5 separate regions of the Homo sapiens genome follow, and regions 1, 2, 3 and 4 are each linked to region 5. Evidence: fine-mapped expression QTL. A gene starts in region 5. Each other region holds a variant in brackets. All regions are shown on one strand. Distances are from middle to middle. Region 1 holds the start of DERL2 (derlin 2). Region 2 has its middle 26 kb from the start of NLRP1. Region 3 overlaps NLRP1 (NLR family pyrin domain containing 1). Region 4 holds the start of LOC101928044 (zinc finger CCHC domain-containing protein 9-like). Region 5 holds the start of NLRP1 (NLR family pyrin domain containing 1).

What was found. PIP is the estimated chance that this variant, and not a neighbour inherited with it, causes the effect.
Region 1: its variant is fine-mapped to the expression of NLRP1 in whole blood (INTERVAL, PIP above 0.99).
Region 2: its variant is fine-mapped to the expression of NLRP1 in whole blood (TOPMed, PIP above 0.99).
Region 3: its variant is fine-mapped to the expression of NLRP1 in whole blood (INTERVAL, PIP above 0.99).
Region 4: its variant is fine-mapped to the expression of NLRP1 in sigmoid colon (GTEx, PIP above 0.99).

What each region holds. Positions count from the first base shown.
Region 1 is chr17:5,484,440-5,489,268 of GRCh38, forward strand. It overlaps DERL2 (derlin 2), which reads right to left and starts at 1,739. Exons shown (of 7, transcript NM_016041.5): 1 at 1,630-1,739; 2 at 712-777. The coding sequence starts at 1,722. It overlaps MIS12 (MIS12 kinetochore complex component), which reads left to right and starts at 2,127. Exons shown (of 3, transcript NM_001258217.2): 1 at 2,127-2,245; 2 at 3,757-4,150; 3 at 4,384-4,829. The coding sequence starts at 4,424. RefSeq lists enhancers at 1,397-1,576, 1,617-1,676, 2,297-2,396, 2,637-2,746 and silencers at 1,847-2,006, 1,956-2,123. The variant G/A (reference allele first, on the strand shown) is at 2,543.
Region 2 is chr17:5,608,359-5,613,218 of GRCh38, forward strand. No RefSeq gene overlaps it. Among named protein-coding and RNA genes, the nearest start is that of NLRP1, 26 kb to the left of the region's middle. The variant C/T (reference allele first, on the strand shown) is at 2,912.
Region 3 is chr17:5,531,433-5,536,292 of GRCh38, forward strand. NLRP1 (NLR family pyrin domain containing 1) reads right to left here. Exons shown (of 17, transcript NM_033004.4): 9 at 2,465-2,556; 10 at 1,872-1,952; 11 at 1,390-1,552. It overlaps LOC124903902 (a long non-coding RNA gene), which reads left to right. Exons shown (of 4, transcript XR_007065590.1): 2 at 2,147-2,268. Among named protein-coding and RNA genes, the nearest start is that of MIS12, 47 kb to the left of the region's middle. The variant C/T (reference allele first, on the strand shown) is at 2,544.
Region 4 is chr17:5,508,902-5,513,761 of GRCh38, forward strand. LOC101928044 (zinc finger CCHC domain-containing protein 9-like) reads right to left here and starts at 3,825. Exons shown (of 1, transcript XM_047437231.1): 1 at 3,051-3,825. The coding sequence starts at 3,726. The coding sequence ends at 3,139. It also overlaps a transcript of NLRP1 not described here. The variant T/C (reference allele first, on the strand shown) is at 2,594.
Region 5 is chr17:5,582,265-5,587,124 of GRCh38, forward strand. It overlaps NLRP1 (NLR family pyrin domain containing 1), which reads right to left and starts at 2,245. Exons shown (of 17, transcript NM_033004.4): 1 at 1,423-2,245; 2 at 406-582. The coding sequence starts at 1,693. RefSeq lists enhancers at 1,583-2,782, 2,054-2,313, 2,334-2,633.

The DNA.
Region 1 (4,829 bases), 98 kb before region 5:
GCTTTACCATGTTGGCCAGGCTGGTCTTGAACTCCTGACCTCAGGTGATCTGCCTGCCTCAGCCTCCCAAAGTGCTGGGATTACAGGCGTGAGCCACTGTGCCCAGCCTCTTTTGGCATTTTAATCACTGGAAAGGACCATCTCCCATTGTAATCTAATAAACCACCATATAGCTTTAGATGTTTGGAATTTGGTTAGTATGATCTGATCCCTGGAAGACAGATCACAATTTAAAAGCACTAACAGAATTGAGTTTCTGGACCATGGTGATAACACCAAGGTGGTGGGTGTGCCTAGGTGCTGAATGGACAAAATAAGGCCATCCCTGTGAGACAACCCCTAAGCAGCTAGCTAGTCAGCCTCCTCTCATAGGACAACGTTAAGTCTAAACCAGTGATTTCCAAATACAGGAACTGGACACATCAAAACGATGCAGGGAACTTTAAAAATAAAACACAGATTTTAATTCCTACCCTTGCAAATTCTGATTTGGTACTTGTTGAGGAGCTTGAGAATCTCTTCAAAGTTCCCTAAGGGATTCTCAAGTCCAACCAGGCTGCAGAATCACTGCTTTATATCCTGACAAGGCAACTTATAATCAAAGGTCCCCACTGGGTTCTTTTTTAGGATAGTGTATAACAGGATTTGCTACTAAACAGTAAGAAAAAGAAGAAACTGAAGCATTAATCACTATTGTGATGAACCACTTACTTGAAAGTGTTTAAAGATTAATTCAGGATTGAAGTACAACTGAAAAGGTGTGATCAATTCCAACTGCTGAAATAGAAAAAGAGCTTCTTAAAGCAAATCAAGAAACAAAATTTCATCATTTACAACAAAGAATTAGTAGGTCTAGCAATTTCCAACTCTCGGTCACTTAGACGTGATTTCCTTTAAGCCTTTCTTCTTAGGCCAGAGGAAGAGGTTGGTAAAGAATTCTCTAGGATTGGTAGAATTCTTTGTATCCTCAATACCTAACACAAAAAAGTCTGTTTTATGTTGCAATAGTTGAGGCTGACATGAAGAAATGAGGCAGACAGGTGGTGATATTTTAGACACAGGACAAATAAAAACAGCTGCTATGAATCTACCCACCACATGGGCACCACCTGAAACAGCTGTATGAAACAACAAAACTCACTTGAAATAACGGAGACTGGAGACCCTGCCACCGTTAGGGCTGGGTACCTCCAGCTAGCCCCTTATTTAGATCCAGAGACCCTTTTTATTATAAGCCATTCCCCTCTCGACAGTTTCCAGCTTGCTTTCCCCATTCCTGTTTCTTCACTAAACGGACCTTCCTCTCACTAGTCACCATGGTACCACCTGGCCATTGGCAGAGCTCTCGGACACATTTCTTGGGTGGGAGGCTCCCGCAACCCTAACCCGCTATAGGTCCGGCGCTCATCTCTTAGAAACTGACCTGACCCCCCATGAAGCAGCACTCCCTTCTCGCGTCACTGGATAAGCATTCTTGGCGCCAACTCGAACCCCAGAGTAATCCCTGTACGCCTCCACCCATCCCCGGGACCAGCCCCTCTGGGCCTCCCCGAGGCCCAAACCCCAGTTTCCTGAAGACCCAGTCATATCCAGCCCAGATAATGAGAAGGTGGCACTGCAGCTGCTCACCACGGCGGCGGTGGTGAGGACGCAGGCAGTGGTGTAGGCGCGGCTGACCGGTGGGATCTGCAGGTACTCCAGCCGCAAGCTCTGGTACGCCATCTTCCCCACCGTCGCCTGCCCCACCCCCCACCCACCCCATTTCCCCTTCCGCCAGCAGGCCCCGGCGGCGGGGCGGGCCCAAAGGCCCCCCGCCCACTTTAGTTTTCCCGCGACTGCCCAATCAACGCCAAGCAACCGCAATCCGTAGAGACCTAAGGAACGCACATCCGCCAATCACGAGTTGCGTCGCCACCGCCCCCCCCCAGCGCCCCATCTCCCCACCCTCTCTTCTCCACCAGCCAACGTCCGGGAAAAACGAGTAAGTACAGGTTCCTTCTGCCAATCCCCGCCGGCCACAGCTAACTTTCCCGCCCGGCCCCTTTCTGTCATAATTGAGGTGTCCACAACCAGCCAATCAGGAACGCGAGAGTATCCCGCGTTTGCTTTCGCTCGCCGAGGCGCGTATCAGTCGGAATTTTGGGGAGCCAACCGCGCCGTCTGTCCCTGGCAAGCCAGCGGCGGTTTAAAGGAGGTGGCGGGAAGCCTGTGTGTGCTTCAAATCGTCACCCTCATGGTCGCTCCGGTAAGTGCTGCGGGGCAGCATTTTCTCTGAGGAGGAGCGGGGACGGGCGAGACTGGCATAAGCGTCTTCGCGAGGGAGCAAGGCGGCCTGTGGGTCGGCCTCACCCCGGCCTCCGACCTGAAGATCCCAGCATGCAGCGCGGGCGCGGGGCCCGACGGAAGCCGGGAGCCGGCCGGAAGCAGTTCCTGCGCTCTGGCTTCTGGGTCCTGTCCTGCGCGATCGCGGGGTCTTAGACAGCTCAACTCGCCGAGATGACCTGGGCACCTCTGCGTTGAATCGGCAAATACTGATCAAGCC[G/A]CATTTATTCTGCTCTCAGGAACTCTAAGTCTAGCAGAGAAGATGAGGCGGTAGAAGTTCATCAGTCAGTGCCCGAAGAGAGGTCCTAATGGGAATTCGAAGAAAGGAGTTAATCAAGGAAGTGTATTTTTTTGTTGTTGTTTGAGATGGCGCCCACCTGTAATCCCAGCTACTTGGGAGGCTGAGCTAAGAGGATCACTTGAACTTAGGAGGCAGAGGTTGTAGCGAGCCGAGATCATACCACTGTACTCCAGCCTGGGCGAAAGAGTGACACTTTGTCTCAAACAACAACAACAACAAGAAAATTAGCCAGGCATGGTGGCCTGCACCTGTTGTCCCGGCTACTTGGGAGACTGAGGTGGGAGGATTGCTTGGGCGCGGGAGGTTGAGGCTGCAGTGATCTGTGATCGTGCCACTGCATTCCAGCCTGGGCGACAGAGCGACAACATGTCTCAAAAGAAAAAAAGAAAAACAGAAAGAAATCCTACCTTACATATACAGCCAAACAGTTATAACCACTCCATATTTAACCATTACAAACGTAAATTTTTATTTTATTTTATTTTTTGAGACAGAGTCTCGCTCTGTTGCCCAGGCTGGGGTGCAGTGGCACAATCTCGGCTCACCGCAACCTTCGCCTCTCGGGTTCCAGTGATTCTCCTGCCTCAGCCTCCCGAGTAGCTGGGATTGCAAGTATCCACCATCACGCCTGGGTAATTTTTGTATTTCTAGGAGAGATAGGGTTTCGCCATGTTGGCCAGGCTGGTCTCGAACTCCTGACCTCAGGTGATTCGTCCATCCGGCCTCCTAAAGTGCTGAGATTACAGGCATGAGCTATCGTGCTCAGCCTACAAACATAAATTCTTAAGATTGGCTGCATCTTATCTTCCCATAAGATTTGACTGTACTGCTTATTGCAAATTATTTCATAAAGTGCGTCCTAAATTCACCTGATAATTGAAGTAGCAGTTTGTTTTAGCTAATTGCCTTTATCTGAAGGAATAATAAAATTTCTCTTATTTCTATGACAAGCAATATCATTTCATCTCAGAAAAAGATGCCTAGGTTGAATTCCCACAATGACAAGGAGATAGGGGTTTTATTTTCCTAGATGTTTATATTTGAGAGGAATTACTCGCAGACCCTTGAAAAAACATGTCAGGGTTATAAAGCTGACAAGGGACTTACTCATCTTCTAATTGGGTTTTTTTCAGATGGCTTGGCTGGAGGACAAGCAAATTGAGGACATTGGCAACGGAGTGATCAAAATGATAGATCATGAGGCCTAAAATGAATAAGGAAAGAAGAGAAGTGGCAGAGGCTGAGAACAGAAAGAGAGGGTGGAGGGGCTGTAAATCTTGAAGATTAGGGTATAATATGAGTATATGGGTAAGAATTGGAAGAATTGTGTAGGAGGCAGTAGTCAAAAAGTAGAAGCAGTTTGGAAGAGTAGTTACAAATATCAAGAGCCAGGTGGCTAAAAGGTGGAGCTATAGGTCATTGAAGCTCAAGAAACTGAGTCTCTAGGGCATTGGTTAAGTCATCTGTCTAGACTTCAAAGTTGTCTAGGATGATAATTCAGAAGACTGATCTGTGCCAAAGTCACAGGTAAGGGAAGTGAACAACGAGGAGGGGAAAAGGGAGGGTATAGGCTGATGGAAGGAGCCTCAGAGAGGCAAAGAGTTTATATCCTGTTGTGGGAGTGGCATCAGGTATAAAGGAACACAAACTCCTTATTTTTTATTGATTTGCTTCTTTGTTTGCTATCTGTAATGTGATTGGTTACTTCCTGCAGAAGATTTTTTTTTTCCAAATGAATTATTTCCTTTTTACATTTGCAGGTTTTTCACGACTGAAAACAACATAGCAAAATAAGCCAAGATGTCTGTGGATCCAATGACCTACGAGGCCCAGTTCTTTGGCTTCACGCCACAAACGTGCATGCTTCGGATCTACATTGCATTTCAAGACTACCTATTTGAAGTGATGCAGGCCGTTGAACAGGTTATTCTGAAGAAGCTGGATGGCATCCCAGACTGTGACATTAGCCCAGTGCAGATTCGCAAATGCACAGAGAAGTTTCTTTGCTTCATGAAAGGACATTTTGATAACCTTTTTAGCAAAATGGAGCAACTGTTTTTGCAGCTGATTTTACGTATTCCCTCAAACATCTTGCTTCCTGAAGATAAATGTAAGGAGACACCTTATAGTGAGGAAGATTTTCAGCATCTCCAGAAAGAAATTGAACAGTTACAGGAGAAGTACAAGACTGAATTATGTACTAAGC
Region 2 (4,860 bases), 26 kb after region 5:
AGAGCACCCCAAAAATGATGGCTGTGCTGAACCAAATTGTGGCTCTTCCTGGAGTGTGACACTTCCAGCCAGAGGCCCTCAGGTATGCACAAGAGCAGCAATGCCCCAGACCTCCAAGGACTCAGGACCTAAAGTAGAGCGAGAAGCCCAGATACAGTCTCCCTACGGGAGGGGCACGGTGAGCTCCAGGCCTCCACATCTGGACAGAGAGCTCTCATCAGCTTGGACGAGCCAGATCAGGTCCCTCTGCACATGACGCCTTTCTCCTTTTCAAGCCATTCTATAAACTCCCAGTGCTGTGGCCAACCAAACAGGCAGGGCTGGAGCAAGAACCATGTCCTCCCTTCGAATCAAACATTTCCCACAAACCTTTTTCTCCCCAAAGTCACTAATAACAATCTTCATGCCCACAGCATCTGCTAACGATTTATTATTACACGGGTAGTATAACATTTTCATACCCACACCATTTTTCATCCTAGGTGGAGTTAATTGCAAATGACTCCCAAGCAAACAGCATTTCCTCCAGCAATCCATTGCGAACAATGGAGCTCCGATTCCCCCCACCAAATCCTGCCGCCTTGCCCCAGCTCCCATGACCTTCTCTCATTTATCACCATTGCTCTAAATGAGTCACACACACCAATAGAAAAGGCCCTGAAACTTTCAACTCAGTGGCTCCTTTCTGCTAAAAGCAGCTCTAAAAGCATGCGGACTTTCTTGAAAATTGAGTTCTAGTTTCTCATCAAATGGAAAAAGAACTTTTCCTTAGGGGCATCTCTCACCACCTATGTCCATATGACGTATGTGAAGTCGTGATGTCTTGGAGGTGGCTGAGGGGCTTTCAGGTTCATTTGGTTGGTGACAGAATGCTGCCAGGTGAGAGCAAGGCTGCAGAGAGCAGAGCTTTCCAAATTGCTGCATTTTCTACAACTCTAAGGTAATAAAACTGGAATAGGTAACAATTGATGTTTGTATAATTCTACTAAGTGTCAGAGACTCTTCTAAGTCCTATATGTATATTTTACATACATTTAACATATATATTAAACAGCCTCCTCATAACCATTCTGAGGTAATTACTATTAGTATTTCCACTTTACAGGTGAGGAAACTGAGGCACGGAGAGATAAGTGACTTGTGACTTGCCCAACATCACAGAGCTGGTAAGTGTTGGAGTCAAGATGCAAACCCAGGTGATCTCCATCCAGTATGAGCTCTCATCTGCTCTTCTCTCTGGCCTTTTTGTAGTGTGTTAACCTCTTTCCTTTCCTATGTTGACATAATCGTTTCAAAGACTATACAGAAAAGATGTCAAGTGAAGCAGTGTGAATGAAGACGGTGAGTTTTGTAGAGAGGGCTGACAGAGGGCTGCGCCTTTCATAGGGTTTTCTACTCCTACCAAGCAATAAGAAGAGCCCCCTCTCCCTCCACCCAGTGGAATCATTTCCCCCAGTTCTGTGTCTATGAGAGAGCAGAGGGAGAGGACATCCCTGGAACTGGAAGACCTGCATTTGAGGACCAGCGCCCTCTCTTTCCAGCTGTGTGGTGTGAAAGGAATACCAGCCCAGATTCTGGCATGGCCTTCCATTAACTAGCTGTGTGCTCTCAGCCATGCTGTTTCTTTCTCTGGACCTAAATTCCTGCATCTTCAGAAGAAGGGTGAGCTGGATGATAGCCAATGTTACATCTTGCTCTAAGTGAGGCAATTCTAGTTCAGGATACAACAATCATTTCATCTAATGAACCAACTTCAGATCATTTTAGTGGTGGCCACAAGGTGTACCTTCTGGAGATTAATTCCGAATTCAAGTTCAGGCTCAGAGGAAAAGGTGGCTTGATCTATTTGTGAGTCTACCACAGACTTTGGAGGGGGAAAAGTGAAAGTTACAACAGACATCTGACATTCTAGTTCCACTGTCCTCACTGTTTTATTTATTTATTTTTTGAGACAGGGTCTGGCTCTGTCGCCAAGGCTGGAGTGCAGTGGCACAATCTCAGCTTACTGCAACCGGGCTCAAGCAATCCTCCTGCCTCAGCCTCCCTAGTAGCTGGGACTACAGGTGCACACCACCACGCCTGGCTAATTTTTGTATTTTTCATAGAGACAAGGTCTCACTATGTTTCCCAGGCTAGTCTTGAACTCCTGGGCTCAAGAAATCCACCGCCCTCGGCCTCCCAAAATGCTGGAATTACAGGTGTGAGCCACTGCACTCAGCGTCCTCACTTTTTACATGAGGAAACCAAGCCCTAGAGAGGTTAAGTGACTTCCGTTAAGCCTCACGGTGAGGTAATGGTGGAGTTGGGATTAGAAGCCAATTCTGCATATTTACTATGGAATGTCACTGTATGAGGAGTTGGCAGAATAGCTAACAATGACCGACATTTATTGAAAAATCACTATATCCTCGCTATGTGTGGTAGACGAAATTATTGTTCATCACTCATTCCTTCCCCCTGAATCTCCAATCCACAGGCAAATGAGTGAGAAAGTAAGTGCTTGTTGTTGTATGACACTGAGCTTTTGTGGTTGTCATGCAGCAATAGCTGACCGATACAGTAATTGGTATCTGAAGTGGAATGCTTTCATAACAAAAACCTGAAATACGTGGCACTGGTTTTGAGACTGGGTGGCAGGTGGTGAGGGAAGTGTTGTAGGAGGCTAGTAAAATGGCACTCATGTTATGTAATGGCAAAACGTTTGGCAAAGCTGTCACTTGGAATAGTCTGGAAGGTAAAGAATGTGCCTGAAGCATTTGTCACATTGGATGAAAAAAATCTGGGGCAGGATGTTGAAAGTATGTGCTGACTACTGCTAATTGCATTAAGCTCAAGGAGGAAGTGGCCGGCTTGCAAGCAGAATTTTAAGGAACTATAAAGAGGCCAGAAATTGCACGGTGGGAAAACAAAA[C/T]AATGTCTTACCAAACCGGAGGTGTGGCCACTACGATATAGCCTTGGGAGATAAAATTTAGGGGTTTCCTCTGTAAGATTTTTGTTGTTTGTTTTGCAGCCAAAGCTGACTGATGGGTACTCTACCAGTCACTTTGCATGCATTATCTCATTTAACCCTTATAATAATCCCAGAATGTAGATGTGATTATTTCCATTTCACAGATGCTGAAACTGAGGTGTAGAAAGGTTCTGAAACAGGCCCAAGGTCACACAGCTATGTGAGGCAGAGCCAGAGTTAGAACTCAGTGGTGGAGGCTGGGCTCGGTGGCTCACGCCTGCAATCCCAGCACTGTGGGAGGCTGAGGCGGGCAGATTGCCTGAGGTCAGGAGTTTGAGACCAGCCTGGCCAACATGGTGAAAGGCTGTCTCTACTAAAAATACAAAAATTAGCTGGGCGTGGTGGCGCCTCTGATCCCAGCTACTCAGGAGGCTGAGGCAGGAGAATCGCTTGAACCTGGGAAGGGGAGATTGCAGTGAGCTGAGATGGCACCATTGCACTCCAGCCTAAGCGACAGGGGGAGACTCCATCTCAAAACAAAAAACAAAAAACAAACAAACAACAACAAAAAAACCTCAGTGGTGGATCTGACCCTAAAACCCATACTCTTACCAGCAAGCTTTTCTGCCTCTCATCCTGCAAACGCTGCCGTTCTCCTTACTCTGAATGTGTGTGAGTGTGGTAGGCAGAATAATGGACCTCCAAATATGTCCCCATCCCAGTCCCTGGAAATGACAAAGAGGAATTAAGGTTGCAGATGGAATTAAGGTTGCTAATCATCTGACCTTCAGAAAGGGAGATTATCCTGGATGATCTGGGTGGGCTCAATGTAATCACAAGGGTCGTTATAAATAGAAGAGAGAGGATCAGAGAGACCTTTGAACTGCTATGCTGCTGGCCTTGAAGATAGAGGAAGGGGCCATGAGCCAAAGAATGCACACAGCCTTCAGAAGCTGGAAAAGGCAAGGACACAAATTCTCCCCTAGAGCTTTCAGAAGGAACGCAGGCTTGCTGACACTGTGATTTTAGCCTCGTAGTCTCATTTTGGAGTTCTGACCTCCAGAACTCTAAGATGACAAATTTGAGTCACGAAGTTTGTGGTAGTTGGTTACAAATAGCAACAGGAAACCAATACGAGTATTCCTAAATGTGTGCTTTATGTGTATGCACAACATGTCCTTTTGTTTTGAGACAGAGTCTCACTCTGTCGCCCAGGCTGGAGTGCAGTGGCGCGATCTCAGCTCACTACAGCTTCCGCCTCCCGGGTTCAAGTGATTCTCCTGCCTCAGCCTCTGGAGTAGCTGGGATCACAGGCACGTGCCACTAAGCCTGGCTAACTTTTGTATTTTTAGTAGAGACGGGGGTTTCACCACACTGGTCAGGCTGGTCTCGAACTCCTGACCTCAGGTGATCAGCCTGCCTTGGCCTTCCAAAGGACTGGGATTACAGGCGTGAGCCACTGTGCCCGGCCCAACATGACTTTCTAAGTGTATACCTCTCCATAAAAGTCTACATGTCTTGGGTAAGGGGAGCCCTTTTGGTGGCGAAATAGGGGTGAAGAAGCCAGCAGATTCCTAGGACGGCTGCAAGCTTCAGCTATTCCTTTATTAGTTGGCCACAACACATACAGCACTGTAATTGAACTCAGCAAGCATGATATGCCTGAGACCCACAGGTAAGTATCTATGTGAGTGAGTGGTATAGCCATCCGTGTTCAGGTACTCACACACGTGTGTGAATATTCATACGTGCACCTGTGTGAGTGAACATGTCATCTTTGCTCGTGTGTGTGTAGACAGATGTGTCTATGTATGTGTATGACTATGTGCAGGCATGTGTGTACATGGGTGCGCATGCATAAGGCACTTGAGAACACATATGTACACCTCTGTGTGTTATGTGTGTTGTGT
Region 3 (4,860 bases), 51 kb before region 5:
GGCCTTGAACTCCTGGACTCAAGTGATCCTCCTGCCTCGGTCTCTTAAAGTGCTGGGATTATAGGCATGAGCCACTATGCCTGGCCGTATGTGCTAATATTAATGCTAAACCCTTAGAATTGGAAACAACACTTTTATAGAGATCAGAAGTGATTTTCCCAAGGCTCCTCAGGTGGGTTAATAGTGGGTCCCGGGATGCCCCAGCTTCTGTAGGTGTGAGCTGGGAGTGACGCTGTCTCCTGGTTGAGATGATGTCTGTGGCAGTGTTTGGTGAGTGGTAACATGTTATATAAGAGATCATGAGTATGACTATAGAGAATTACTACTAGTGCGACTGTAAGCCCTGGGAGGGCAGGGCTGCCATATTCATCTTAGGGTCCCCAGCTACTAGTACAGTCCTTAGCTCATTAGTGGCTGTTAATAAAACAGGAGCATACAGATTAAGAGAGTTAAGTGAGATTTAAGAAATATAACAAAGAAAATAAAATGAGTGGACCTTGTTTGGATCCTGATAAGAACACACCAACTGGCCAGGCGCGGTGGCTCACGCCTGTAATCCCAGCACTTTGGGAGGCTGAGGAAGGTGGATCGTCTGAGGTCAGGAGTTCGAGACCAGCCTGTCCAATATGGTGAAACCCCCATCTCTACTAAAAATACAATTTTCATTTTTCACACGTGGTGGCATGTGACTGTAGTCCCAGCTACTAGAGAGGCTGAGGCTGGAGAATCGCTTGAACCTGGGAGGTGGAGGTTGAGGTAAGCCAAGATTGTGCCATTGCACTCCAGCCTGAGTGACAGAGCAAGACTCTGTCTCAAAACCAAATCAAACCAAACCCAACCAAACCACAACACCAACTATAAGAACATGTTTTAGACAATTGAGCAATTTGAATATGGATTGGGGAGTAGATGAAATGAAAGACTTACTGCCAGCTTTGTCAGATGTGATATTGGCATTGTAGTTATGTTATGGAAGAAAAGGTTTTTATTTTTGTTTTTTGAGATGCGTAATGAAATATTTAAGGGTAAAATCACCCGATGTCTTGGATTTAAAATACTGTAACAATAACAAAGAGGGGGAAAGTGAACAGCTGAAACGAATTTGGCAAAACAGTGGCTGAAGCTGGGTGATGGGTACATGGAAGCTCCTTGTACTATTTTTGTATATGTTTGAAAATTTTAAGTTTCATAAGAAAACATCTTTTTCCATATGAAAAGCAGACACCCAGTGTCTCAGCCCTGTCTCTGCCTGTTGTCTTGGCAAGAGGAGGGGACCCAGTGGTGAGTGTGAGTTGGGGGTAGGGGGTGGCGCTGACTGTCTGTGGGGACCCAGGATGGGCAGTGGGGTGCGGGAGGCCAGCCTGGGACCAGCAGAGCCCCCTCACTCACCGGTACAAGTTCTTTTCTTTGTCAACTACCTCAGTAGCCACAGGCCCCGTGGGGCCCCAGAAGTCATCGTCAGTCCCCAAAGGCTTCGTATGCAGGTCCCCTTGAGAGGCAGGAGAAGGCACGCACAAGAGTTCCACCGGTACTACCTCTGGGGAGCTTTCCTCTGAAACAGCAAGGCAGCGGTCAGCTCCAGATTCTCCCGCCTGGCCTCCCCTAGCCCCTATGGCTGCACTGTAAGGGGCCCTTCCCAAGGCTGGCCTGCCTGGACCATGGCAGGGAGTGTGTCTGCAGCTTCTGCTCCTGCTCCATGGCTGCCTGCCTGCTGTCTGGGGAGCCCCACTCCAGTGCCTCCAGCCCAGCCTCCGCCCATCTCCCCTTCCCCACTGGAATAGAAGTGCCACTCTCCCCAGCATGCCCAGGTGGGCAGGTTGAGAGAGAACATGGTTCAAAAGATGAAAGGGGCCAGGCACCGTGGCTCTTGCCTGCAATCTCAGCAATTGGGAAGATCTTGCTCACGTCCAGGAGTTTGAGATTAGCCTGAGCAACATGGGAAGCCGCCCTCTCTACAGAAAAAAGAAAAATATCAGCCAGGCATGGTGGTGAGCATCTGCAGTCCCAGTTCTACTCAGGAGGCGGAGGTGGGAGGATTGTTTGAGCTCAGAAGGTTTAGGCTGCAGTGAGCCATGAACATGCCACTGCACTCCAGCCTGAACACTAGAGTGAGACTCTGTTTTTTTTTTTTTTTTTTTTTTTTTAGATGGCAGGGCAAAGATGGAGATGTGATTCCCAGGCCTTAGCAGCCAAGAATGGAAGAGGCCGGACCCCGGTTCAGGGTTTGATACATGCCATAGACGTTCTGGAGAGGGGAAGCACCAGCCGGTGGGTCTCGGAGAGAGGGTAACGGAAATCCAGCCAGTTCCTAGGAGTGGGAGCTCTCTCGTGGGGGTAGCACCCTCTTGGGTAGGAAACCTGCCCCGTCCCACATCAGGGGCAGAGGGATGGAGGGAATGACCTCCCACAGCTGACCTCCCCCAACCCCTGTCACGATGCTCCCAGCCTTGCCCCTTCAAACTACCTGATCCGAGTCTCTGCCGCTTGAGTGAGGATGTGCTATTACTCATCTCTCCCGTATCCAGGCCCTCAGTAGGGGTCAT[C/T]ACACTTGGTTTCCTGGACAAAGAATTGTTCATTCTGCCTAAGATCTTGGAGGAAGCGAGGGCTGTCCACATGACATTCCCACTAAAAATTCAACTCCTCCTCGGGTCGGGTGCAGTGGCTCATGTCTGTAATCCTCGCACTTTGGGAGGCCGGGATGGGTGGATAGCTTAAGCTCAGGAGTTCGAGACCAGCTTGGGTAACATAGTGAGACCTCCCCACCTCATCTCTGCCAAAAATACAAAAATTAGCTGGGCATGGTGGCATGCACCTGTATCCCAGCTACTTGGAAGGCTGAAGTGGGAGGATCACTTGAGCCCAGGAGGCAGAGGTTGCAGTGAGCTGAGATTGTGCCACTGCACTCCAGTCTGGGTGACAGAGCCAGACCCTGTCTCAAACAAAACAAAACAAACAAAAAAACTCCATCCGAATTTGAACTCAATCCTGTGGTTCTTCTGTGGTCCCTGTCTCTGTGAGCAGCCTCCATCCACCCATGCATCCAGGCTAGAGCTGGGGTGTCATCCCAACTCCTTCCTCGCCCACCCTAAGAGCTGATCACCTTGACAACACCTCTCAAATAGCTCTTCTTTCTATTGTCTTCTCTCCACCTCCATGACCTCCACCTGAGTCCCAGGCCCTGGCCTCTGTGGCCCGCACCACTGCAGCATCCTCTGAAAGGTCTCCCTGCTTCTGCTCGGGTCCCTCTGCCGCCCATTTTCTACACAGCAGCCAATCTTGAAATAGGAACCTGACCCATCACTTGGCTGCTGCAACCCTGTAATGTCGCTTCATTGCTTCTGGGGGAAAATGGAAAGTTTTTAACATAGTCCAAAAGGGCTTGCCAGGGCCTCTGTCACCCTCCAATGTCACCTGGGCCACTTTTTCCTGGCTCACTGACCTCTAGTCCATCGGTTCTCAAACTGTGCGCTTAACAATCATCTGGAAGGCTTGTTAAGACACAGATTCAGCCGGGCGCGGTGGCTCACGCCTGGAATCCCAGCACTCTGGGAGGCTGAGGCGGGCAGATCACAAGGTCAGGAGTTCGAGACCAGCCTGGCCAACATGGTAAAACCCCGTCTCTACTAAAAATACAAAAATTAGCTGGGTGTGGTGGCATGCACCTGTAGTCCCAGCTACTCTGGAGGCTGAGGCATAAGAATGGTTTGAACCTGGGAGGCAGAGGTTACAGTGAGCCGAGATCATGCCATTGCACTCCAGCCTGGGTGACAGAGCGAGACTCTGTCTCAAAAAAAAAAAAGACACAGATTCCTGGGCCCCACCCCAGAGATTCTGATTCAGTGGGTCTGGAGTGGGGCCTGAGAATTTGCAGTTCTATCGAGCTCCCAGTGAGGGTGATGCTCATGCTGCTGGTCCACGGACCACAGTTTGAGTAGCTGCTCCTGACGCCTGGCCTCCCATTCCTCCAGGAGGCTAAACTCTTTTCTCTCTCAGAGCCTCTACTTCTGCCTGGACTCCACCCCTTCTTGGGCCCAGCCAACCTGTCCTGTCTTTCAGACCTCAGCCCAGATCCTCTTGACCAGGTCAAATAGGCCCATAGGTGCACTCACACTGACCCCAGGTGCATTTGCGCAGACACTTCTGGGATAACCTGTGCCTGTCTCCCTGCTGGACTAAGCTCCTGGAGGTTGGGTTGTGTCTTTCTTGTTCACTGCTGTGTCCTTAGATCCCCAAACAGTGCCCGACACATAGTGGGTCTGCAGGGAATGTTTGTTCAATGAATAAATGGCTCCTCTTAAGCCTAGGAGCTGTTTTCCTTCCATTTCAGGTGAGCCACAGCAGCCAGGAACCTGGGGACAGATGAGCTTCATGGTCAGGTGGAAATGCACCCAACTGGGAGAATGTGGGAGCTGCAGCAGATTCCTCGGGGAAGGGAAGATGGACTTTCCTGGCCCCGGGGCTTGCCCCTCAAGTCAGGGGTGTGTGTGGTGGTGGTGGTGAGGGTGGTGGGTGACGGTGATGGCGAGGATGGTCTTTTTCCCAGGGCACAGGCGCTCTCTCTCTCTGTCTTTATCTCCCTCTTGTGATCATCGCTTTCATTGTTCCAAACCTTCTCTGTTCTTCATGGAAGGATTCCTGGACTAGAGGCCATTTGGTATCATGCTGTGCTGGGTCCAGGGGATTCGCTGGCTCACCCACCCACTGACTTTTTCTTGTTCTTTTTTTTTTCTTTTTGAGATGTTGTCTTGCTCTGTCACCCAGGCTGGAGTGCAATGGCGTGATCCTGGTTCACTGCAACCTCTGTCTCCTGGGTTCATGTGATTCTCCTGCCTCAGACTCCCAAGTAGCTGAGACTACAGG
Region 4 (4,860 bases), 73 kb before region 5:
TTGTGCACCATGGTTATATTAGTTTCTGTGCAACAAGGCCAAAAAAATCTAAGTAATGGACCCAGTGGCCATTTTCAGGATTAACAATACTCTGTGATGGTCTGATTCATGCCCACGCAGACAAAGGTCCTTACCTAACCGCCTAGATGGCCCCGCATTGCCTAGCAACTACCTGCTTAACAGCAGTTGCTAGGAAACCAAGAACACAGCAGGACTCCTGACCAATAGCACAGCGTCCATACTACTGCTAGACTTCCCTTCAAGTTCTCTCCAACAGTCATGCTCCTGTCTAGCCTTTCCTCTTCTTCTCCTATTCTCCTCCTTCTCATTCCTACCTGCCTGGGGCTAACCTGTGAGTAGCACTCAATGGGGTCCCCACAATCATACAACCTGACACAACACAGGTAATCACAGGTTCCAGAGGACCTTCTTCCTTCCCCTGCTTCCTTCTTGCTCCAGGACTGGGGCCTGGACCAGAGTGTGTGCATGGCTCAAAGTTTAAATCTGTAGTTATCCCACCATTGAGACAAGTATTGCTCATGGCCTCTATCGGATTCTAGCACCTGGCAAATCCTACTCCTTGGGAGAGTGACTCCTTCAGGAAAGGCATTAAGCTCAGCCCAGGGCTCCCACCATCCATCAGAGTGCCTGGTGGAAGCATTCCATGATTCTTCCGTTTTTCTGAGATGGAGTCTCACTCTTGTTGCCTACACTGGAGTACAATGGCGTGATCTCGGCTCACTGCATGAGCCAGCACGCCCAGCTCATTTTGTTTGTATTTTTAGTAGAGATGGGGTTTTGCTATGTTGGCCAGGCCGGTCTCAAACTCCTGACTTGAGGTGATTCATCCGTCTCAGCCTCCCAAAGTGTTGAGATTACAGGCGTGAGTCACCTCGCCCAGCCAAATCCATGATTCTTGAATGCATTCTTTGACAGGGGTCCCTGTTCCAAGTGGCCCACTTTAAAGAGAAAGAAAACTTCATGTAGGGTGGATTAGTCTGAACACAGTGATCCTGGAAGACTCCAATTTTCCACCATTGTTGAGAATGATCCCTGCTGCCCTGCACTTCTCATTCCCATCATCTCCATGTGCTGTTCAACCGTCACATCCATTCTGAGGAAGTTGCCATCTATCTCTATTCAAAAAGATCTTTCTTCTATTCTTCTTCTTCTTTTTTTTTTTTAAATAGAGACAGTGTCTCACTATGCTGCCCAGGCTGGTCTCAAACTCCTGGACTCAAGCAATTCATTGGCCTCAGCCTCCCAAAGTGCTAGGATTATAGGTAAGCACCCAGCCAATTATTTTTATTTAGAGACAGGATCTTGCTCTGTCTCCAGGGCTGGAGTGCAGTGGCATGATTATGGCTCACTGGAGCCTAGGCTCAAGGGACCCTTCTGCCTCAGCCTCCAGAGTATCTGGGAATACAGGCATGTACCACGATGCCCGGCTAATTAAAAAAACTGGTTTTTTTTTTTGAGATAGAGGCTCGCTCTGTTGCCCAGGCTGGAGGGCAATGGCGTGATCTCGGCTCACTGCAACCTGTGCCTCCCACGTACAAGCAATTCTGCTGCCTCAGCCTCCCGAGTAGCTGGGGTTACAGGCACCTGCCATCATGCCCAGCTAATTTTTGTATTTTTGTAGAGACAGAGTTTCACCATGTTGGCCAGGCTGGTCTTGAACTCTTAAACTCTTAACCTCAGGTGATCCGTCCGCCTTGACATCCCAAAGTGCTAGGATTACAGGCATGAGCCACTGCATCTGGCCAAAAAAATGAAAAAAAATTTTTTTTTTTAAGAGACGGGGTCTTGCTATGTTGCCCAGGCTGGTCTTGAACTCCTGGTCTCAAACTCCTGGTCTCAATAGATCTTCAGGCCTTCGCCTCTCAAAGTGCTGGGATTACAGACATGGGTGCGTATTTCGTATCTCCTTGCCACTAGAATATAAATTGCTTGAGAATAGATACTCTGGCCTCTGTTATCACTGGCACCTACAACAGCCTCAGGCTCAAAGAAGCTAAGATTTACTGTCTGCCTAGTGTTGTGTACCAGCTCGCCCAGAACAACTTCCCACTCATGAGCTCACCTAGTCAAACAACCGTTTGACGCAAGCTTTGCTATTCCCTTCTTACACATCTGAAAACCTGTTTCAAGATCACACATCTAATGGGTGGTAGAGCCAAGAATTTGATTCCCAGCTCACTGCCTGTCCCTCAGAATTCTAGCTGTTGCTATTAGAATCCAGATCCAGGCCGGGCACGGTGGCTCACACTTGTAATCCCAGCACTTTAGGAGGCCGAGGCGGGCGGATCACTTGATGCCAGGAGTTCGAGACCAGCCTGGCCAACATGGTGAAACCCCGTCTCTACTAAAAATACAAAAATTTATCCGGGTGTGGTGGTGGGCGCCTGTAATCCCAGCTACTCGGGAGGCTGAGGCAGGAGAATCGTTTGAACCCGGGAGGTGGAGGTTGCAGTGAGTGCAGTGAGCTGAGATTGCGCCACTGCACTCCAGCCTGGGCGACAGAGCGAGCCTCCGTCTAAAAAAAAAAAAGAGAATCTGGATCCAAAGCGGACATGCATGTGTGTCTCCCCCA[T/C]CCCCACACACTTGTTTGTGTCTGGCCTTTCTCCTACTCCAAGACTGGCTCCACTTCGGGGCTCGCTGCCATGGAGACGACTCCAGATTTAGGAATACATTTCCTAGGCTTCCGGCAACTAACGTGAGGACTTGCTGGGATGAGGGACGGGGAGGTCTGCAGAAGGAGGCGGGGCATGCGGGGGTTGCGGGGCTTAGAGGGTTGGCGGAGCCCCTCCTCGCGTAGGTCCTTCCTTCTTTCCCTCCCTCCCTTTCTCTTTTCTTTTTCTTTCTCTTTCTCTTTCTTCTTTCTTTCTCTTTCCTTTCTCTCTTTCCTTCCTTCCTTCCTCTTTTTCTTCATTCCTTCCTCTTCCTCTTTCTCTTCCTTTTTCTTTCTCTCTCTTCTTTCTTCTTTCTCTCTGTTGAAAATTGTTTTTGACCACACCCAGATCATACTGATATTTACAGTATAGTCCTGGCTACAAGGGAGCCCAGCTGTAACTTGTGAAGTGGGCCTGGTTTAGAAAGTAACAATGAGGTGGTAACTAATGACAGTACTAGTTGTTATCAAAAATTAACACCTTTAGGTATTTTTGTTTTGGGTTTTTGTGGTTTTGGTGCATCCACAATGTCTTCATAGTCTGCACTTATTCCCTTTGCCCACAGACCAACTGTGGCCATTCGATCTGAATTCTCACTTTCAGGGCAATCTTTCTTTAAATGTTCCACAGAGCCATGAAGTTGGCAACCACTACCATCAGCATAGAGTCCTTTGGGATTATCAGGACAAGATCTAGACAGGTGCCCCATTTCTCCACAGACAAAACATTCTGCAAAAGGACATTCGCCAAGAGGCGGGTCTACTTTAGCCTTACACTTGGTTATTTCGTGATCTGTGGACCCACACTTGTAACATCTTCTAGTGCCCATATCTTGATTTTCAAGGGCGGCAGGGCAATCCGCAATTCCACGACCAGGTTTTCTACAATGGAAACACACCATTGCATTTTTCTTTGCCCCTTGTCTTTTAAATCTTCTTACTTCCCATTGACTGTCCTCTTGGAGGAAGGGTTGTGTGGAGAGTGGAGGTCTGCATGTGGTAAAGGAGATGGGTGGGTGGGGCGTGAAGGACCCGAAAGACAAGGCCAGTCTCATGGGTGTGTGACCTGTGCGGTCACACAGAGCCCTGAGCTCAGCAGGGCCTGGCGCTTGATTTCATGTTCTGTTGTCACCGTCTTGACATTCTTATCATTTTTGAACGAGGGGCCCTGTGTTTCCATTTTGCACTGGGTCCCACAACTGCTGGAGCTGGTCCTACAGGAGGGTGAAAATTAGCATATAATGAGCAGTGAGGACAACCAGGAGTCCCTTTCATTGCCATCTTGGCTTTGGTGGGCTTTGGCCAGCTTCTTTACCGCATCTTATCAGTGGAGTCTTTGTGACCTGCATCTTGTGAAGCCAGTCCTGCCCACCTCCTGTGTCACCCCCAGCTTAGAGATCTGCATACAGTAAAATTACTACTAGCTTTCTCCTGAGGCCCTGCAAGCTAAAGCTTATACCTTGTGATACAGGCGTGTCAGATTGCCACCACTTTCCTGCTTTATAACTAAAGATGCTTTTGAGTCTAATACCTGGATAGACTGTGTCCAGCATTAACCTTTTTTTCTTCTGTTCTCATAAAAATCTCTCTTATTAAAAATCTGTTTGGCTTTGTATTTCAGACAACAGAAGACTAGTTTTCCAGCCTATTCACTTAGATTCCAAATGGCATCTGATCTCTTATTTTTTTCTTTCTTATTTTTTTAAAGAGACAAAGTCTATGTTGCCCGGGCTAGTCTCAAAAGCCTGAGCTCAAGTGATCCTCCTGCCTTGGCCTCCCAAAGTGTTAAGATTACATGCATGAGCCACCATGCTTGGCTTTGATCTCTTCTTTAAAACTGGGCTTAAGTATTTTATGAATTATCACTAGGTGCTATTTGATTTTAAAAATATTTGTTATATTCATCAGGTGTTCGGACGGTTCAAGTTTATGTCTTCCAGGCTACAACAGTTTCAGAGAAAAATAATTAGTCCAGTGTTCCAGCCTGTGCCACTGCAGAAAAGATGGAGTCCCTATAAGTCATTCGATCAGGTACGAAGACATTTCTATGCCTCCAGAGCAGGTAGGGATGATGGCCCCTGTTCAGCATGAAGCAGTGACAGAAGATAGATCTCTGTCCTTCTACAACCTCTTAAGATTAAGGACGAGTATGTAATGTCTGAGGTGGGGATAAGATAGGAGGTTGGCAG
Region 5 (4,860 bases):
AAGCCTAGCCTCTTCTTGGGGTCTGTCTGGAAAACAGAGTCCTCCTTGGAACTTCTGGACCACCCTGACCCTAAGGATCTTCAGAGCCCATCAATATTATGAGCTGAGTTCTCGGGCAAGGACCATGTCACGAGTTGGGCACCCAGTTGGGGAAGACTCATTGCCTGACCCACATGGGTCTCAGCTTCCCCATCTGCCACATGGGGAGGGATGCAATCTCAGCACCGGAAGGTCCCTGAAAGATCAATTTCAGGCCTACCTCTCACAGCCCATCCTGGCTCCCCTATCCTTCCTCTGCTGTCCCCCATGTCAGGTCCCCATGCACAGACATGATCCTCTGGGTGGGGCCCACCAGCTGATTCACAGCTCCACCCAGGGCTGTCAGCCTGCCTCAGCAAGCCTCACCTCTCCAGCGGCGTCCAGATGTGTCAGGCAGCTGTCTCAAAACCCTTCTCTCTGAGCCCTGGGTGCACCCCGCCGGCAATTCATGGATCCAGGGCATTAGCACTGCGGTGGAGGTGGGTTGGCTGGGAGACCCCAGGTGGGGTTCACTTGGGCTGTAGGGGAATGAGGGAGAGTGGCCTACAGGAAAGAGACAAAGAGGTTGGAGACACATCAGAGGGGCAGGGGCAAGGTGCCAGGGAACTGAGCTGGTCTCCTCTCTCAACCAAGAGAGGTCAGGATACACCAGTGAACCCGCTGCAGCCCTCTACAACTTCCTCTAGAGGCTTGTCTGAAGAATGATGTTCTTATAGATACTGCTAGGCAAAAAATCCTCATCTAGGATCAGGAAATTTGCATATCTGTCTTGGTCCTGACTATCTCCCTGTGTAAATCACTACTCCTACTGAGCCTCAGCTGTGCTTTATTGGGCCAACGGCATCTGCAACCCAGGGTGGCTAATAGTAATAATAACAGCAGCAGCAGCAGCAGCAACAACAGCAATGGGAGATCTTATTTATTGAGCACTTACTGTATATCAGACTCTGTGCTAAATGTTTAACCTGGATGATCTCTTTTAACCCTCACACAGCCCAGGGAGGCGGGCTCTCACTCTCCCATTTTGCAGACAGAGAAATAGGCAGAGAGCAGTGAAGTGATTGGCCCAGGGTGATAGTGCCAGGACTGGTGATAGTGCCTGACTCCCAAGTCCGTGCTCATAACTACAATGCCAGGCGAGTACCGGGAATGCACTTGAATAGAAGAGGGTGTGGGGCTCTGAGGTGCAGCAAGGGCCCCCCCAGCAAGCCTCCTGGCTCCAGCATAGTCTGGGGCCTGGATCCCCCTTTGAGAGGGCAGTTCCATGTCACTGCTCAGAGGAAGGCCTGGCAGGGAGGGCTCAGTGGTGGGGTCCCAAGAGGGCAGGGCAGGCATGAGGGCCAGGGGATGTCCCGCGGGCAGTGGGGTCCTCTGTCCACTCACCTGCCCCTTCCTGGGCTTGGGCGCACAGTGACCTCAGCCCCATCTGCTCCCAGGTATGGAGGGCTAGGTCCCAGGCCCGCTGCTCCCCATACTGAGCCACCAGGTACGAGGCCACCTCCATGCCACTCGTCTTCTCTGGCTGAGCGGGTGTCTCACCCGAAGAGCTCCTGGAGTGCGCTTTATTGGCGAGCAGAAGCTGGAACTCCTTCAGCTCCTCCTTCTTCAGGAACTCCAAGTAACAGGCCAGGCGGCCCCAGGCTCCGCCAGCCATCTCTGTCCCGGAGTTAAGAGGGTGTCTGGGGGATGTTCCCAGGTGGTGAGGGTATCAGGCAGGCAGAGAACAGTGCTGTCCTTTGCCTTGGCTCTTACCGTCTCTTATTCAGCATTCGGAACCCAGTTTTATAAATCCCAGGGCACCTACAGATAGACGCCGATAGAGGGGGAGTGGTAGGAAAAGCCAGGGGAGGGAGGAGCCCAGAGGGGCCTGCAAGACACTGGAAGAAGTCAGCTGATAGGGAGGTCCTGGGATGGGGTCCAGGGCCAGGCAGGGAGGGTGAGGGTGAGGGGAGATGTGGTGACGGGAGATGGGGTGTGGGCAACGCTCACTGTTCTGTGTTCCTCAGATTCTTCCCTCTCCTGGGTCCTGGACTCCTGAGATCAACCCTTGAGCTGCAAGGCTGAGAAGAGGTGGGGTGGGAGGAGCCGCAGAGCAGGGAATGGGCTTTCAGAACCCAGAGTGGAGCCCCGGGCTGCTGGCTCCCAGGTTTCTTCAGACCTCTCCAGGCCCTGGGGCACCAGCCAGCAAGAACAGCGCCTAGTCAACAAGAGCAGGAAGGAAACGTCACCCAGAGGAAACCCACAAGGGGCGTGGCCAGGGGGTAGGATCAAACCAGGCCTGGGTAGGCCAGACTCAGAGTCACAGATTCAGATGGGCCACATGGCATCTATAGGCGGACCAGGAGCACAGGCCCAGACCAGCTGACGCTGCAGCAGGTACAGGCCCATACTAAACACGGTGTGTGCACCTCCACATGGGCACTCCGCCAGCCCATCATCTAGAGCCTGTCTGCAGAGCCAGGATGCAGACTCTCCGAGCAGTTGTGTCTGCAGCCCAGGCCCAGCCTCTCAGGATGGGTGGGGCCCCCTGTGTCTGCCCGGGCAGCTCCTTATTGGGAAACATTAGAACTGGGCCAGGGAGCATTTTTCCCAGCCTCTCATGGTTTTGGGAGCTTCTTGAGTTGCACTGCATGTCCTGCCATGCTACCAGGGGCACTAAAGCATGTGTCCCAGGCCCAGGGGGCTGTTTGCCTTCTGGGCAGCCCAGCACTTAGCTGGTGAACATTTCCACCTGAAAGCAGAACAGCCCCTTCCTCATTCCTGCAAGCAGGCCTCGGGGAGCCAGGGGCAGACTTCCTCTTTCGTGGAATCTGCAAGATGCCAATGACTTCAGGTTGAGGAATGACATTGCCTACTCATTTGCTGATGTAACACACCACCAGGAATTTCTGGAGATGCTTTGGTTTCACTTGGACTGGCAGAGCCCAGGCTTCAACCCACGGCTTGCTTGGACAAGGACTCCTTATGTGCCTGATTTATTTCTTTGAGCCTCAGTTTGCCCATCTATTAAATGGGACATCATAGGTTTACCAAGAGGCTTCAATTCAGCAAAAGGTCTTAGAGTCTCTCTCTCTTTCCCAGGCTGGAGTGCAGTGGCAAGATCTCGGCTCACTGCAAGCTCCCTCCACCTCCTGGGTTCCAGCGATTCTCCTGCATCAGCCCAGCTTCCTGGGCAGTTGGGATTACAGTCACTCACCACCACGCCTGGCTAATTGTTTTGTATTTTTAGTAGAGATGGGGTTTCACCATGTTAGCCAGTCTGATCCGAGGTGATCCGCCCACTTCGGCCTCCCGAAATGTTGGGATTACAGGTGTGAGCCTCCGTGCCTGGCCTAAATAAATTTTATAAATGTTAGTTTTAAAAAATGGCTAATAAGCACATTGTAGGACATTCTAATATCAGATTGACCAGAAGTGGAAAAGTGCTGTGCTAAAAGTGGGATGATCGGGAGGCTCTGAGCACTCCGTGAAGGACCGTGAGACTCCATGTAGCGGGAGGAATGGCCTGGAGGAGGGCTGTGTGGGCTTTTTTTCCTCCTCACACCAGCCAGTTCTGGCACCAACTCTCTAGACACCAACTGGTGTCCTACAGTGCAATTCTGACACTGACTGCCTGGAGTTGGCATCAAACCTCACAGGTTTAGGGTTTCAGTGAAGAGCTGGCCTCATATCAGATGCCAGTTGCAAATGGGGTGCCCAGACCACTGGCATCTCTGTCTGACTTGGTGACAAATTCAAGGGTTCCCACAGTCCCCGGCAGGTTCAATAATTTGCTGAAATGACTCACAGGACTGAGAAAAGCACTTTATTTATTATTATCGGTTCATGATGGAGGATACGACTCAGGAATAGCCCAACGGAAGAGATGCCGAGGTCAAGGTGTGGGTGGGGGAGGGGCACAGCGCTTCCTTGCCCTCCCGGGCACCCTACTCTCCCTGCCCCTCCCTGCTTCACTAACCTGGAAGCTCTCCAAACCCCAAACAAACAAGACTGTGGGGTTTTCTCGGAGGTTTCACTTCACAGGCATAATTCATTAAATCACTGGCCGCTGGAGATCCACTCAACCTGTTAAATAGATCAGAAACCTGACCCTTCCCACCACGCCCACTGGGGCTGCTGGTCCAGCCTTCAGTCGTCTCTTACTGGGATCACTGTGCTAGCCTTCCACATGTTCTCCACCCATGCTGATGCTTCCCCTTTACTGTCTACTCTCAGTCTAGAAGCCAGAATTATCCACTTAAAGCATAAATTAGGTCAGGTCACTTCTCAGCTCAAAACTTTCCCATACTCCATCTCACTCTGAGTAAAAACCAAAGTCCAACCAAAGGTGTGGTGACTCGTGCCTGTAATCCCAGCACTTTGGGAGGCTGAGGTGGGAGGATCGCTTGAGTCCAGGAGTTCAAGACCAGTCTGGGAAACATGGCAAGACCCTGTCCCTATGACATAATATTAAAAAACTTCCCAAATCCGGCCAGGTACAGTGGCTCATGCCTGTAATCTCAGCACTTTGGGAGGCTGAGGCGGGCAGATCACCTGAGGCCAGGAGTTCAAGACCAGCCTGGCTAACATGGTGAAATCCCATCTCTAATAATTATAATACAAAAAAAATTATCCGGGTGTGGTGGCGCACGCCGTATTCCTTCAGGAGGCTGAGGCAGGAGAACTGCTTGAACCTGGGAGGCAGAGATTGCAGTGAGCCGAGATTGCACCATTGCACTCCAGCCTGGGCGACAAGAGCAAAACACAGTCTCAAACCAAACCAAACCAAACAACAACAACAACAACAACAACTCCCCAAATCTCCCAGAGCCCTCCCAATGG